Regions from separate parts of the Homo sapiens genome. Here region 2 is linked to region 1. The links come from fine-mapping of genetic effects on plasma protein levels. A gene starts in region 1. The other region holds a variant in brackets. All regions are shown on one strand. Distances are from middle to middle.

Region 1 (5,389 bases):
TATGACATCATTTACATAAAACTTTTAGAAACATTTTCAGGTTGATCCAGACTTTTGACTTCTGGTCAGAAACTTTTTTATAGTCAAATACCTGTGAACATCCTTAACATTATGGCTAGAGCAACTATGGCAACCTAGCAACAATGAAGTATCATTAGCAAATCGAATAATGGTGCATATACATATATATTATATATATATGTATATGCACACTTCTATTTTCAACCCCTATGTTTGGTTAATCACAGACAAAAGATGTATTACTAAAGAGAGAGGAAAATAGATGAATTTGGTTTCTTGAAGTGAAATAACATTTGTGACATCCAGATATATTTATTGAAAAGTAATCTGCATTCATTTATTAATAATCAAATCACAGCATTCGTTGAACTAAATAATTAGATTCTAAACTAAATATTAACAGAAATATAATTCTGAAATTTGTTGTTGACTTTCCTAATGTTAAAATTTGTCAAAATTTAATCTTATCATTGATAGGTGTAGTAAAAGCACTTCCCTGGTTTAAAGCTCTGTGAATCAAGGTTGCTGGTCTTTTCCCCTAATCTGTGTATATTTCTAAAATACTTTCATTCTATTGAAGAAAGCTAATAAGACGCTGTATGGATAAACAATAGATATGTAAATTTTGTCAGTTTTCATCAGGCGTGCACATCCAGCAGGGATCTTTTGTTCTCTCATTTTTCTACCCATTCCTGCATGAAGGTATTTATAAACCCACCAAAACTTAGATCAAACCACACTTGTACAAATAAATCTCTTGAAACTGCCTTTTGATATCTTCCTAAGCTGAAGACTTCTTTTTTTTTTTTTTTTGAGAGGGAGTCTCACTCTGTTGCCCAAGCTGGTGTGCGGTGGCACGATCTCAGCTTACTGCAACTTCCGCCTTCCGTGTTCAAGCAATTCTCCTGCCTCAGTCTCCCAAGTAGCTGGGACTACAGGCGCCCGCCACCACACCCAGCTAATTTTTGTATTTTCAGTAGAGACAGGGTTTCGCCATGTTGGCCAGCCTGGTCTCAAAACTGCTGACCTCAGGTGATTCACCCTTCTCGGCTCCCCAAAGTGCTGGGATTACAGGCATGAGCCACCGCAGCCGGCCTGAAGACATTTTTAAACTTCAAAAATATATCCTGTTTCACCTTGCTGTATTATAGGTACAGGTAAATAAAAACTACTTGGCATGCTTGCTTTGCTTTCAGAAATACAAGGTATATGTACATTGTGGGTATTCGCTGAGGGCAATAAATTCTGTTTTGCTGGTTTTAAACTGTGTTTTCACCATACCTAGACATTTCTTAAACTGAAATTGTTTTAGGTATTGGTCTCAAGATGATAGCTCAAATGTCATATTTAAAAACGATTTCTTGGATGGCAATACTCTCTCTGATTCTGGAAGGAACATTAAACACAGTTGCAGCAAGGAATAGCAAATAGGTTACTGCAAATATATTTACTCACCTATCTGGCTATGGATGGTAGTTGCTCTCTCTGTCCTTTCTCCCCCTAATTTTCTCTCCCACCTTTTTAAAACAAGGAAGGCTAGTATCAACCAAATGTAATTTAAGGCTAAAAGCAGAGGAAATAAACTACATGGAACACCTCATTTTCATCTATCTTAGCAAATTAATTCGGCACATGTGTAAGCAGGAGAAAACTGCTTTCTTGGGACCAACAAAAGTAAGCAAAGATTAAGTGTTGTCTAAAGCTTAGGAATGTTTGGCAAGAAGACTCAACATCACATCCATGACACAGAGCAATAAACAGAGGTGGGGGGTGGGGAATGAAAACAATCAGAATTTTTTTTTTTTTCGTGCACAAAATGCTGCACAAAACAGTGGAATCCCTGGATCTGGCTCCACATTTCATTGAGTACTTTCCAGTTCTTTCTCCCCTCCAACCCTTCCTCCACAAACAGACTTGGAGAGCAGGAAGGACGGGGCACCGATTAAACGGAAGAGGGAAAGTGCAGAAGGAGTAGGTTTGTGTAGCTCGGGTAGACGTCAAGGGCGGGGGTGTCCATCTTCTCCACCAGGATTCCATCCTAGCCACCCAGAATGGTCGCGGCGTAGGTTATGTTCCCAATTCCCAGTCATCCCGCCCACCGAGGCCTGGGCTTCTTAGATGTGCAGTGGCAAGGAGGGGACGTTGCTTTAGGGACCCAGAGGAGCAGTGTGGGTTCCCGGGAGGGAAGCCACCCACGCCCCTGGACTCACCCTCGCAGCGATCCGTTCAGTCCGTATTAGTTTGGAGCAACGGGAGGGAGGGTCTGGAGGAGACTCCCTCGGGCGCGCCGCGGGTAACGGCGGGAGGGTGACTGGAGGAACGCCCCCGGAACGCGCAGGAGCTCACCTGCGCTCAACTCTGGAGCGGAGCACCTGACCGCGCCGCTTCCCCGCCCCGCCTCCTGGCTTCTATTGGCTGCTGCAGAGATAGTCACTTCTGCCTGGGTTGCCCCCGAAAGCCAGGCTCCCAGGAGTAGCTGCACGGCCTGTCAATCAGCGGGGGCAGGGGCGGGCGCTGCCTGGGTTTGGAGGGTGGAGGGGGAGGGGACTCCCGGGGGCAGGGACCCATCTGGTAGGGCGAAGGCGTGGGATGGCCAATTGCTTGGTCACACACAAAACCTTCCGGCAACGTGCCTTTTCCAGGGGACCAGCTGTGCTGGAGTCAGTGATGCTGAGAGATTATTGCGTGTTACCCCAATGGTGGGTGTACTCTAACAGTCACTGTTTTTTGTTTAAAAGCGACTTGTATTCTCTGATTTCTTATCCCAGGCTTTTTTCCTTCCCCCGCCCCCCGCCCCCTGCCTTGTCACGAATTGGCGATGGGGCACACCATGGGCTTTGCTCTGAGGAACACCTGCACACCCGAGGATGCCAATGGGACGATGAAGTTTCATTCTTTTTATTAGTGGGTGTTATCTGCTTTACCTCAGAAAGAATTTATTAACCTAGTCAACTCTGCAGCCCCAACGTTTGCAGTCCAGGTTTTTGCAATTGAGGTCCCTGAGGTATATTTGTGGTGTACCTAGCATGGCACCTGAAATTGTGCGAATTAAACCAAGACAGGTTCAGAATTAGGTTAATTTGCACAGGAGAGAGGCTGAACAGCCACCCTCTCTGGTGGTGGCATCCGAGCTCCAGACTCTGTTTCTACCTTTGTTTGCAAAGTAAACATTAAAACTACAAACATCAGGCCTGATTACTCTTTCAGAAAGCCTTCAGTGCTTCTTGTGTGTTAGTGCCCCTATTTTGTCTTTTTCCGTACTGTAGTGGATTATTTTCTCAGTTTTTTTGGGATAATCAATGGCATTTTTAGGCCTGAGGGAGTGTAGGCAGGTACTTAGTTTGCCAGTATGATCCCAACTGTCTTTACCATAAATTATAGCAGTGATATCAAACTACCCTGAAAGAATTTGTCCATCTACACAATCCCAGCTAGAATTCTGACCTAATTAGAATTCTAGTTCTATCTGCAGTAGGCAATAATATCAGGTTGATTGTTACAATGTAAGTTTAACATCTAATTAGCTGGTAAAACTGGGAGCATATCTGCAATGGTGGTTTTGGCTCCTGCCCGGAGCTCGGATCCCTTGTCTGGTGTGCTGGAGCTTTAAAGTGAATAGAGATATCTGTTGATATTTAATTAAGCCATGCAAACATTTTGGTCATAGCTTTTTCTCTGTCTGCTTCTAATAGAGGGACAATCTCAACCCCAAACATTGTTACCTCCTAACTGGGTCATCCCATCCCGAAGGGCATCTGGGCACTCTTCCATGGCCTTTTATTCGTGGTAACTTGAGTTTATGGTTTTCAACACGTGGGATGGGGATTAAGAGGGAGGCTGGTTTCTATGTTTAGTGAGACCCAAACACAATGAAGTTGAACAAGTTGTTCCAATTCCCCAAAGCCCTGTCCTTTGAAATTGCCCAAACTTGGAACAGAGTGGTCCAATCTTGTAAGTCCTTGTCCCCCAGAATAGGTCAACTCTGTGCTCTCCCAAAACACTCAAAGGACAATGTACGCTTATCAGAGAGCAGGAGTGGTGAAAATGGGCCTGACTTTTGTTCGGATCACTGAACATTGTTGGACTCTGTTTGGATGACAACCTGCTTTGCTCTGCAAATTTTATGGAAGTTATGATTATATTCACCAGCTATTCCTGTGAAATAGGCATGGTACAGCTGGTAACCACAGTGCACAACACAGAAAAGTGCTCATAAGACTGCCAGATTCCTCCCAGAAGTCCATATAATGATATCTAATGTTCACCTGATAGGCTTGCTATTACCTTATGTTGTTCATGGGGAGAAAGTCTGGTTTACATAGTATAGAGGAATGAATGTAAAACATGAGATTCCTGCTCCCACATCTGCACCTGCCCTCCTGTCTTATTGTTGCCTCAGTATCTGTCTATTTGCAATAGGTTTTCAGAAAGTTTTAGCAGCAGAAACCACAACCTGCTATTGACTGTAACTATTCTTTTATTCTCTGTTATTAAATTAGTGGAATTCTAATTGAATAATAGTGTAACAGAATAACCAACTTCTTTCTTTCAAAGGTTTTGGGGTCAGGTGGGGAGGGAGATCCCTCTGCCTCCCCAAGGAAGTCTAATACAGGTTGAGAGAGGGACAATTTTCTTCGTCAGGGGCTGGAAGAGCTTTGTGCTAAAACTGAAAAGGGATCTGTTCTTTAAGAAACAACCAGAACTGGCTCTACCACAGAAGTCTTGTTTTTCAGAACTAGACTTCATGATAGGAAAAATAAACACATAATTTTACAATTAAAAAATTTTAAAGGTGCATTCCAGTACATTATACCACAAATGACTAAACTAAAAGAAAGTTCATCTTTTAATCCTTTGTAGAACATTCTGCAAAATGTGGGTCTCACATATTCAATGGCCATAGATAGGAACCACTGGGATTCTGCTTCTGCACTGCTCTTAATTCATGATAAACAGTGGTCTTCACTAATCTTGACTCATTAGCAGAAGTTCAGTCCAATGAGTGAAATGTTGAATTATAGAATAGTCAAAAACTTAGCCCAAGAATTTTTATGCATATTAATAAATTAGGCTTCTAGTGATATGCTTGAACTAATTAGAATGAATTTTGTAGAAGCAATTATTATGCTTTTATCCTCAGAAAGCTTTATATAAGTCAAATATAAACCTATTTGTATTGTTGTATTCTGTAAATTGTATTCATAGTGTTTTAGTTCTAGGACTGCCTTAACAAATTATCACAAACTGGGTGACTTACGACAAACAGAAATGTATTCTCACATAGTTCTGGAGGTCAGAAGTCTGAAATCAAGATGTATTCAGGGCCATGCTCTCTCCGAGACTCTGAGAAGAATCCTTGCTTGGCCCT
Region 2 (5,389 bases), 27 kb before region 1:
AGTTGAGATATTTCTGTTGTATCCTAGGAACAAATCATACCTTGTGATACTGTTGTGTTAAGAGGGTACTTCGATTTAAAGAAGTTCACACAGAATAATTAGTTCAATTTTCAACCAGATAATTCCCAGGTCTTCATTTAATAGCAATTTACAGTAATCACAATTTCACCTTTAAATTAGAAAGTAAATTTAAGAGTGAAGGCAAAGTCCTACTTTCTTTCCAAAACTGCAATTACTGTCAGTAATTTTCAAGATTCATTCTCTTGATTTATACAAAATAGAGAAGTAAAGAAACAGTAAAAGGGGAGAGATTAGCTAATCCTTGTTCTTTTGTGTGTTAAAAAAAATTTGTCTGAGTAACCCTAAGTCTTCCCCAGTAACAAAATCATTTACCTGAATGCTACAGCTATTTAGAACACTGGGCAAGAACCAGAAAGTAACCAAACAAATCCACCAAGTGAACAAAATAGATACATCAAAATCTCTCCTAAAAAATATATAGGGGAGAAAATGTATAGGGGTGAGTTACAGGCTTGCCTCAAACTGAAGCTTATTTATCCATATTTCATATTCAATTCAAATGCTTTTTTTAAAATCTAATTTTGTGGTCTATGGTAGGGGTCAGCAAACTTTTTTAGTAAAGGGCCAAATAGAAAATAGTTTAGGCTTTGTGGGCCAGCTGGTCTCTGTCTCAGCTACTCTACTCTGCCTTTATTGTGTAAAAGTAGCCATAGACAACCTGTAAAGAAATTGAAGTGGTGTGCTTCGGTGAAACTCTGTTTACAAAAAGGATGGAGGGCTAACCTTCGCTATGGGCTGTAGTTTACAGTTCCCTGATATATAGCAATTTAGAAGTATCAGGCAAGCATAGGACAGACTCAGAATCAATGAAGTTTGTATATTATTTACATCAATGTTATGTTGCATATTTGTTGTTGACAACCGAAAGTATAGAAAAGCATAGGAAAGAGAACAAAAACTATCCATAATCCCTCAGTATGGATTTATAGGCAAATGTTAATTGTGGACATTTCTCCCCATCCAATCTTTTTTCATATATATATTCTTTTCTAATATATATCTATATTATATATATTATATGTAATATAATTATATGTAATATATATAATATATATAATGTATATTATATATTATATATAATATATAATTACATATAATTATAATATATATTTTCTACATATATATGTAGAATATATTATATATTATATATAGAAAAATATATATTTTTTTCTAATATATGTGTGTGTGTTTTAATATTATTGAAATCTTTATATATTCTGCTTTTTGTCATATTGGTTATTTTTATGATGAAATATTTCAAACATACCACCAAAGAATAATATAACAAATATCAGTATACTCATCACCCAGTCACCCGTACTTAATATGAAAGTGGGAGCTTATTAAATACAACGGGTGTACGTTAAATGGCAACATTTGTTAAAATAAAGCTAAAAATTGGGAATTTATTATTGGAGTTGTATTAGGGACTATCATATGCTTTTCTTTAAGTCTAACTTTTACTGGGATAGAGTCACCAGATTAGACAACACATTCAACGCAAGATCCCTCCTGTAACAATTGAGATAGGTTAGGCTGCAGATTTTCTTTTTCTCCATTTGTTGGCCTTACTCACTTCTGTTCTTCCCAGTTACACAGAACCCTCAGCCTGACCACTGTCTTTATAACTGGTACTGCTTGCAGTGAGCTTTTGCAAACAGTGCTGAGATTGACAAGTGAAGTAATTGGTACTCGGGCTGAAAGATAAGTACATCAGGTTGACAAGTGGTGGTAAAGTCTGAGGGTATGACCAGTTGGGAAAAGGGGCATATGTGTGTGTTTGTGTGTGTATGTGAGAGAGAGAGAGAGAGAGGGAAATATGGAACATAGCTGAGTTGAAGAAATAGAAATTTTTATTTCTAGTCCCTTTCTGAAAGAATTGAATGTTTATATACTAGAAGCAAGTTATTTTGTCCTAAAAAGTCTGATCTTATTGACTGATGTTGTTTTGTTCTTTTTCAGTAGGTGACCATGGTTATGATAATTCTTTGCCTAGTATGCATCCATTTCTAGCTGCCCACGGACCTGCATTTCACAAAGGCTACAAGCATAGCACAATTAACATTGTGGATATTTATCCAATGATGTGCCACATCCTGGGATTAAAACCACATCCCAATAATGGGACCTTTGGTCATACTAAGTGCTTGTTAGTTGACCAGTGGTGCATTAATCTCCCAGAAGCCATCGCGATTGTTATCGGTTCACTCTTGGTGTTAACCATGCTAACATGCCTCATAATAATCATGCAGAATAGACTTTCTGTACCTCGTCCATTTTCTCGACTTCAGCTACAAGAAGATGATGATGATCCTTTAATTGGGTGACATGTGCTAGGGCTTATACAAAGTGTCTTTGATTAATCACAAAACTAAGAATACATCCAAAGAATAGTGTTGTAACTATGAAAAAGAATACTTTGAAAGACAAAGAACTTAGACTAAGCATGTTAAAATTATTACTTTGTTTTCCTTGTGTTTTGTTTCGGTGCATTTGCTAATAAGATAACGCTGACCATAGTAAAATTGTTA[G/C]TAAATCATTAGGTAACATCTTGTGGTAGGAAATCATTAGGTAACATCAATCCTAACTAGAAATACTAAAAATGGCTTTTGAGAAAAATACTTCCTCTGCTTGTATTTTGCGATGAAGATGTGATACATCTTTAAATGAAAATATACCAAAATTTAGTAGGCATGTTTTTCTAATAAATTTATATATTTGTAAAGAAAACAACAGAAATCTTTATGCAATTTGTGAATTTTGTATATTAGGGAGGAAAAGCTTCCTATATTTTTATATTTACCTTTAATTAGTTTGTATCTCAAGTACCCTCTTGAGGTAGGAAATGCTCTGTGATGGTAAATAAAATTGGAGCAGACAGAAAAGATATAGCAAATGAAGAAATATTTTAAGGAAACCTATTTGAAAAAAAAAGCAAAGACCATTTGATAAAAGCCTGAGTTGTCACCATTATGTCTTAAGCTGTTAGTCTTAAAGATTATTGTTAAAAAATTCAGAAGAAAAGAGAGACAAGTGCTCTTCTCTCTATCTATGCTTAATGCCTTTATGTAAGTTACTTAGTTGTTTGCGTGTGCCTGTGCAAGTGTGTTTGTGTGTGGTTGTGTGGACATTATGTGATTTACTATATAAGGAGGTCAGAGATGGACTGTGGCCAGGCTTCCACATTCCTGAAGCACACAGATCTCAGGAAAGGTTATTTTTGCACTTCATATTTGTTTACTTTCTCCTAACTCACAAGTTAAAATCATAACTTAATTTCATTAACTTTTATCATTTAACTCTCTCATGTTTGTTGTAACCTGAGGTATCCAAATGCTACAGAAAAATTTATGACCCAAATACAAATCTCAATTTGACTGGGACAGAATGAGGAATGGAGATTTTTGTATTTATCTTTGGGACTTTATGCCTTACTTTTTAGGCTATAGAATAGTTAAGAAATTTTAAACAAAATTTAGTATCTTTTGGTCTTTCACACCATTCATATGTTAAGTGGCAGAATAGCCTTAGTGCTACCTCCACTTTTTTCTCCAGTATTTGCATCACAGAAATAATCCCTCTGTTTAACATGTTTGTTCAGAGCCAAGGGTTTATTGTGAAGAACTGTCATCCTGCCTTTGCTAGCTGGTACCTTCTAGTAATCAAAATTAATATGAAGAAACTAGGTTGTGACAGACTAGATTATATTTAGTAGGGGAAAAATTGGGCTCAAGAACCATTCATCAGTACGTGAGACAAGCAGTTAATAGTATGATCTTTAAAGTTTTGACAATATAAAATAAACTTGGTAACTGTTTTACAAATATAAAAGTATAATAAATATGCAGCCCAGTTAAATATTGATTATCTGTGATGGTAAAGAACAACAGTGGTGCCAGTCATCAAACATACAGTGCGTCCTATTGAGTCACTGCTAATTTCTTGAGCCTGGTATTTGCTGCCTATTGTATTTGTGGTTGTTGAGAGGCATTTTCAAACCCTGTATAAATAATCCATGCTGTTGGTCATAAGTTAACTGTATTAAGAACAGTAAAATAAATAAAAACCAATAGTACTAATTTTGCTTTAAAAAAATTTCTAATTTTTTTCACATAAAACAATTATCCTAAAGGTTAATAGTTGATCGAAACAGAATAATAGAAAAATTCTACTTTAATTTCCATTAAAAAGCAAATAGCATTGACACATTTAAAGCTTTTCATTTAAAGTAGTGGATGTTTTTGAAGTATCTAAAATAGTAGCAGAATATTTTATACTTGGTCCTTGCAATGGTGTGAGTTTTAATGATTGCATTATCGTGATTGGTGGTTATGAGTTTCAGAAATCTATACTTGGCATCCAACTCATGAGTGGATTTTATATAGGATGGAACAGGAAGGTATGTCCTGTCAGTATCTTAACCCTTTCAACAAGACATTTACCTATTTGTCTTTCCTTACGTTCTCAAAATATTAACTCGAATTGTAAATTAAGCAAAAATTTAAAAAGTATATGTTGATGGGACAAGAAGAATAGTATTTATTTAATAAAACATATATTATATTGAACTATGTGTTAATTCATTTGTATCTTTTAAAAAATTATCACTGTTAAAGCCATTGACTCCTTTAGTACACTGAGAAAAATCTTATAGTAAAACTAGCCTTTCACATTAAGGTTTTGGTGTGTATTTTGTTAAATAACTAACATGCTGCTCTATTTTCTGGGTGTAGAAAGTATTTGGCTCTAGGAAACATTTACTTGTTTGTGAAAACAATACCCCAAGGTAATAGGAAAAGTTTGAGTTAAGTGTTTTTAATTCAGTCAGTGAATTCAGAATAAGTACATTCATGTATAACATAGGGACAGTTCTGCTGCTGTTATTTATATGCAATTCTTCTGGTAAATAGCAATAGAATAAAACATATTTCAATGTTTGTGTATAGGTTTTATATTATTATTCCACTAGGAATGGCATAAGAATTTATAGATAAATTCTTGTAACATTAAAGGATTAAAATGTTTTTACATTGTTTTTGGGTGTCTCCTTCTTGTGCCCATATCTGATAAGCTTTATGGATTATTGCATTTAATTCCTTTTATTTGGAGGGTTTTACTTCCTTGTTAACATATAAAGTTATAAATGAAGGACAAGGAGGAGATGGAAAATGTGTATTTATTGTTAATTCTTAAAATAGTGTGTAAATAAAATAACATCAGTGTGCTTTAAAGAAATGTGTATGTAGTGCCTTAATTTAAATTAAAATATTTTTGACTGTTACTTGAGTTCAGAATTAATGACTTTGTT

Alleles and levels. Alleles are on the strand shown, and positions count from the first base shown. The strength of an association depends on the size of the effect and on how common the allele is.
For the plasma level of the protein whose gene starts at base 2,404 in region 1, allele C in region 2 goes with a lower level than allele G (weak association).

Evidence for each region. A credible set is the group of variants that fine-mapping cannot tell apart. PIP is the chance, under the fine-mapping model, that this variant and not a neighbour inherited with it causes the effect. Protein levels are from antibody-based Olink assays in UK Biobank. Linkage for the fine-mapping came from a reference panel and not from the study's own genotypes, which makes the PIPs less certain.
Region 2: its variant is the best candidate, but not a certain one, in a credible set for the plasma level of the ENPP5 protein (UK Biobank, PIP 0.52).

What each region holds. Positions count from the first base shown.
Region 1 is chr6:46,168,577-46,173,965 of GRCh38, forward strand. It overlaps ENPP5 (ectonucleotide pyrophosphatase/phosphodiesterase family member 5), which reads right to left and starts at 2,404. Exons shown (of 5, transcript NM_001290072.2): 1 at 2,232-2,404; 2 at 1,477-1,538. RefSeq lists a silencer at 2,576-2,635.
Region 2 is chr6:46,141,233-46,146,621 of GRCh38, forward strand. It overlaps ENPP4 (ectonucleotide pyrophosphatase/phosphodiesterase 4), which reads left to right. Exons shown (of 4, transcript NM_014936.5): 4 at 2,044-5,389. The coding sequence ends at 2,408. Among named protein-coding and RNA genes, the nearest start is that of ENPP4, 14 kb to the left of the region's middle. The variant G/C (reference allele first, on the strand shown) is at 2,613.